Regions from separate parts of the Homo sapiens genome. Here region 1 is linked to region 2. Evidence: fine-mapped expression QTL. Tissue or cell type: whole blood. Region 2 holds a variant in brackets; the other region holds the start of a gene. All regions are shown on one strand. Distances are between the middles of the regions.

Region 1 (2,904 bases), 24 kb before region 2:
TTCTTTATTCATGTATTGTCTGTCATCTCCAACTAGAATGAACGTATAGTCCCTGAGAACGGGGAATTTGTTATCTATTGAAACTTCAGGGCCTGGAACATAGCAGCACTCCAGTATTTGTTAAATAAATGAATCCATTTGAGCTTCTGCATATTTGAAATTTCATAAGTATATATAAATGGTAAATTGTGATAGACTCAAAGGCTAGTATCATTAGGCAATTGTCTCCCGTTCCCAAAAGACTTCCTAAGTCTACTAAATGATCTGTTTTTAATATGAAAGCAAAGTTATCTAAAAGAAAGGAGAAATCTTTAGTTTTTTTGACTTCGAGATTCTTTGCAATTTAAGCTTTTTTTTTTTTTTTTTTTTTTTTTTTTGCTTTTCTTTCAATGGACACTTTCGAAGTTTTACATAAAAACATTAAAACCTCTTGTTTAATGTAGTGGGATTAAGCTGCCGAAGGCAATCCCTACATGTGAGGAAAATATGCTTCCGACACCCCAATTTTTTTTTTCTCCCTACCCATCCTCTCTGGTGGTCCTGACGCTCCCAGCCCCTTTTTGTGTTTCTTGATTCCATGCTGAGAACTCGCAATACAAACTCAAAGCCCACATTTGTGAGGTGGTTGGGTCAGGACTGCAACTAAAAATGATTATTGTTTTTTAGGTTTCTGGACAGTTCAACACCAGCCTTTGGTTTTGCCTCAGAAGCAGGGAACTTCTCTAGGCCCCTATTTTGCCTTTCAGCTATTGATGATCCAAATCATACCAGCGATTAGGAGGATCATTACCAGACACAAGGCCAGGTACGTTTAAAAAATAAATAAACCAAGCGCAGGTGCACACTCCGAACGCTCATCCCCACCCCCACTTTCCAATCCAACAGTAGGTAACGAGAAATGAATTTTCTAGACTTTTTTTCCTGCAGCAGTTGCTGTTACCAGAAACAAAGTTAGATGATATACAATCTAATCTTCATTGCTCTAAAAGTCCTCTCCCCATGCCCCCCAGGCTGCCTCAATTCTCTAGTTTCTTATTCCTTATAAGCAGGGGATGGAGCTGAACCAAGTCGGCCTTCCCCTCCCAGGGCCTTCTCCTCTTGGTCTGGCTTCCATTTCAGATGCGAATTAACCCTCCCAATACCCTTTCAGAAGCAAGGAGTCCCCTTTTTCTCCGCCTCCAGCCTCAGCTAGGTTTTCCTCATTTCGGATTTTTCTACTGCTCATTCCCAAATGAGTCACGCATGACGACAATTTCCACTCTGCTATGTCAGCCTGGAGATGTCCCCCAAGTGATGGCATCTGCTCTCGGAAAGAAAGGTCATCGGTGCCACGACCAGCCCCGCTAACCCAGAGCGGCCGGTGGGCCCCAGTCCCGAGAGTCAGGGCGCGCGGCGGAGGCGAGGCCGGGGCGGCCTCCGCCCTCCCGGCCGCTCCCCCTCGCGCCGCCCCGGCTCCTCCCTCCGGCCCTCGGCGGGCACCTGGCGGCGGCGGGCAGGGGGCGGCGCTGCGCGCGTCACGCGGCTGGGTGGGATAGCGGGCAGGTGACACCCGGCGGCCTCCTCCCCTTTCCAACCCAGTCGGCGGCCGGGACAGCGGGGGCCGCTGTGAGGAGCTCCGCGCTCGCGCTGCCAGTCGCCGCCCTCTCTCCCGCGCGCGCCCGGCGCTTCGGCTCCGCTCCCTGTGCGGTGAGTGCGGGGTTCCAGGCCGGCGGGCAGGGGCCAAACTTTCCCGGCGCGCGGAGGAGAAGAGACTGGGGAGGGAGGCAGAGCCGAGGGGAACGGCGTCGGGAGTGGCCGGATGGAGGAACTTGGGCGCGGCGCGCGAGAAGTGGGACCCGGGTGCGGGGGCCCCGGGAGCGGGGCCAGGCCCTCCCTGGGCTCGGGAGGCGCTTGGGAAGTTCTGTCCCCGCTGCCTGCGCGTGGGGAGGACCGAGGCCCTTTTCGCCGGAGCGCGGGGCCGCGGCGCTCACCTGCGCCTTCTCGGGAGCCCCCACCCGGCAGCATCCCGAAGGGAAGGTCGGGCCCGGTGGGCGCGCTGCGGAGCGGAGCCTGGACTGGGGTCCCGCGCGGCGCTGGCCCTGCGGAGCGGAGCGGGAGGGGCAGAGGTGCTCGCCGGCGGGACTGGGAGGGAGAAGGACCTGCTCGACCTTGGACGCGGAGGTCATTTTCCCAGCTCCGGGGTCTGGCCTCGCTAGCCACCCCCCCAAATTCCGGAGCCCCTTTCTTTCTGTTTCCTTCCTTCCCCTTTGGGCGCTTTTTTTGCTCCCGCGGCCAGATGAACTTGGGGCGCTGTCCCTTCGGCTCCCCGAGCCGCATCCTGTCTTGGTGGCTGCTGCTGGCCGGGAGGAGGCTGATGAATACAGAGCCGTGGAACAGGTCGTGCCGGAGATGGAAACAGGAAAGCCTGTTGTTTTGTCGTCCCAGGTATCGTTGGTTCTTTGGGAAATGGGCTTTCCCAGGTTCGTTGGGAAATGGGCTTTCCCAGGTTCGTTGGGAAATGGGCTTTCCCCCTTCAAGTCAGAGCTGTTTCAAACTTCACCCGGTGCGGACAGAGCGCTCTTTGGAGCTCCCTGGGGAACTCGGGACGGGAAGGAGCGGGTCTTTACACCTGTCCTGCTCCCAGTGTAGTTAGTCCCGCGTCGACTGAAGAACAGTTTTAGCGACCCGAGTTCCTCGCCAGTGGTCTTTTCCCTCTTGCTACGATCTCCCCTCGGAAAGCATGTTCACTTAACCCTGTGCTCTCGGATTACCCTTTATTTCATTCCTCACTTTTATTGCTTACGTGCTCCGAAAGGGTCATCGATACCTGGTGGCTGCCTCTGCGTTCTTACCACGCACCCGCTTATTCATTCCCTTTCTTTGTAGTTTCTCTTCGTACTACTGATCAGAAATTGGTCTCCCCAA
Region 2 (2,904 bases):
AATAGCTCAGTCTCACATCTTTCACAAAGCCTTCTTATCATTCACACCTTCATTTATTTATTCACTGATATTTATTAGACATTTGCATTGTTGCATTGTCCCAGGCAGCAAACAACATTCCCAAAAGGAGGAAGGTAAGAACACACCTGAAGGCATTAGAGAAGTGCTTCTCAAACTATCTGTGGTAATAGACCAACTGGGTTTTTAATTTGTTTTTTTCTTTTTTTCCCTATCGTGGATCAGTAAATGGTCCTATTGCACATAGTGAATATGCAGGTTGCACCACATGTGACTCACCTCACAAATTCAGCAACACTTGAACTGGTCTATGCCTTGTTCAACAAGCATCACATACTTGGATGTCACAGCAATGTCAAATTGCTATAAACATTTCTAAATGCTTACACTTGATTTCTGGAGTTAGCTGGTACCAATCTAGTAAGAAACCATTTGTGCGTCAGCACCAGTCACAGGCCACTGTCCTAGAGTGTTTGCTATAGATGCCATGGTAGAAGAGGGGACAGCTTATGTCAGGGGCTCAGAAGAGACTGGACAGTTTGCCTGGGTGGTTTAGCTGTAAGGGGAACAGAAAGCATGTTAGAGGAAGGCAGAATTATGAAAAGTGAGCTAGGCTTCCCAGCCAGCCGAACAAGGATTTTTAGTCATGAAGAGAAACTGGAGCATAGATAGAGGGGGAAGGAGGAGCACTTGGGCTTGCTGAGTTGGAGGATAGAGGGGACATAGTGGAAAAGGTTGCTGTTAGGCAAGAGATGAAGCTAGAGAGTCACGTGGGGTTGAGATCATTCGTTCAGCGAATACTGTTTGGAAGTCAACCATGTGCCAGACCCTGCCTAGGAATTGGGGTTAGAAGTCCAGCAGGGACAGTTTTGCTCTGCTAGAGATTAGAAGGGTGCTAAGCGTCACCACAGAGTTAGACTTTTTAGTAACTGTAGGCAGACTTTGAAGGATTTTGAAGTAGAGCATGGTGTGACTGCTTTAATCCTTGGGAAGATGACTCTGGTGGCCTTGTGTACAGTGGATGGCTGTTCATTTAGGAAAGTTAGTTGAAAGGTGATTTCAGTAATCTTGGCCACACAAAGACGGAAGTGAACTAGGCAGTAATTATAATTATTACTCAAATTTACCGAGAACTTTGTATAGGGCTTAAAGCTACAGCATACTAAAAACAGATAATTCACTAGGCAGACAAGAGAACATCAACACAAGACAGACTTATCAGTAGACAAACTTATTAGTTCACTTCCTTCTGTGTGTGGCCAAGAGATGATAAAGCTCAGGAAGTAGCAGTCAGGGGTTGAGGGGAGGAAGTGGAGTTGAAGGAAAGGGGAAGGGACTTTTAGGAGAAATATCATAAAGATGGCATACACCACAGGTCTTAAGGGGTCAGTGGAGTTTAAGGATGGCTCACAGTTTCTGATTTGTGATCAGGTTC[G/A]TGGTCCAACTCATTGGGAGAACGAATAATAGAAGGGGAGGGTGTTGGAGAAGTGAGAAGTCAAGAGTCTAAAGATGTCGTACCAGTTAGGTGCCTTTCTGTGTTCCTGTAGTGCTTTGTGCTAACTTCTTGCATAGAATTGTCCATTGGGCTGAAGTACTTATGAGCTCCTTGAGAATGTGTACCCATTTTTCTATCCCAGACACTGGTCACAGGGCCTGGCATGTGGAACAGGCTTGACAAATGGTTCTTAAACTAAACCGAAAGATAGTGTATTAGTTTTCTATTGCTGCCATAACAAACCACCACAGACTTTTTAAGTTCATTGAAATAACACAAATGTATTATCTCACAGTTCTGTAGGTCAGAATTCCAGGTTGGCACAGCTGGTTTTTCTGCTCTGTGTTTCACAAGGCCCAATTAAGGTGTTGGTCAATTGGGCTCTTATTAGGAGGCTCCATTTGGAGCTCCAATGGGAGCTTGGAATCCATTTCTAAGCTCATTCAGGTTGTTGGCAGGATTTACTTTTTTTGTGGCTGTAGGACAGAGGTTCCTGTTTCCAGGCTGTCTGTCAGAGGCCACCCTTACCTTCTAGGAACCTCTCCCCAGTCCTTGAATGTGGGCCAGTCCATCCCAGAGCCAGCAAAGTTGCACTGAATATTCATGCTTCAAATCCTCCTTCTTCCAGCCAGAGACAGTTCTCTACTTTTAAGGATGCATTTGATTACATCGGGCCCAACATGATATTCCAGGGTAAATCCCTATTTTAAGGTCTATACATTTAATTACATCTGTGGAAACCCTTTTGGACATATTAGGCGCGGAGGGGAGAGCATCATTTTGTCTACTACAATAGTAATTATCCACCAAGTCAGGTAGGCATTATGATCGTGGTTTTTTTTGTTTTGTTTTGTTTTTCTCTCGAGACAGAGTCTCACTGTCACCCAAGCTGGAGTGCGGTGGCTCGATCTTGGCTCACTGCAACCTCCACCTCCCAGGTTCAAATGATTCTCGTGCCTCAGCCTCCTGAGTAGGCAGGATTACAGGCGCCCGCCTGCCACCACGCCGAGCTAATTTTTGTATATTTAGTAGGGACGGGGTTTCACCATGTTGGCCAGGCTGGTCTCAAACTCCTGACCTCAGGTGATCCACCCACCTCGGCCTCCCTAAGTGCTGGGATTACAGGCATGAGCCACCGTTCCCAGCCTATGATCGTGGTTCTTAAACACTTATGCATTCTAGCACCTCTCATTTGTACAGGGAAGCAAAAGGAGACTGAATTTGCCCAGTGTCAGATGGGAATGGGAACCGAGATAGATCACGACCCTTCAACTTCACTCTTTCTTCTAACCGTCAGTACATTGTCCATCTCATCCATCTGTCTATCCACCTATCCCATCTATTCAACTAGTAGTAATTCATTCATTAATTCATAAACATTTGAGTAGCTG

What was found.
Region 1: ELOVL7 starts here. The variant in region 2 is fine-mapped to the expression of ELOVL7 in whole blood (INTERVAL, PIP above 0.99).

Annotation. Positions count from the first base shown.
Region 1 is chr5:60,842,942-60,845,845 of GRCh38, reverse strand. ELOVL7 (ELOVL fatty acid elongase 7) reads left to right here and starts at 1,577. Exons shown (of 9, transcript NM_024930.3): 1 at 1,577-1,686. RefSeq lists silencers at 1,356-1,655, 1,676-1,835, 1,846-1,905.
Region 2 is chr5:60,819,256-60,822,159 of GRCh38, reverse strand. All of the region lies in intron 1 of ELOVL7 (ELOVL fatty acid elongase 7), which reads left to right. Among named protein-coding and RNA genes, the nearest start is that of ELOVL7, 24 kb to the left of the region's middle. The variant G/A (reference allele first, on the strand shown) is at 1,454.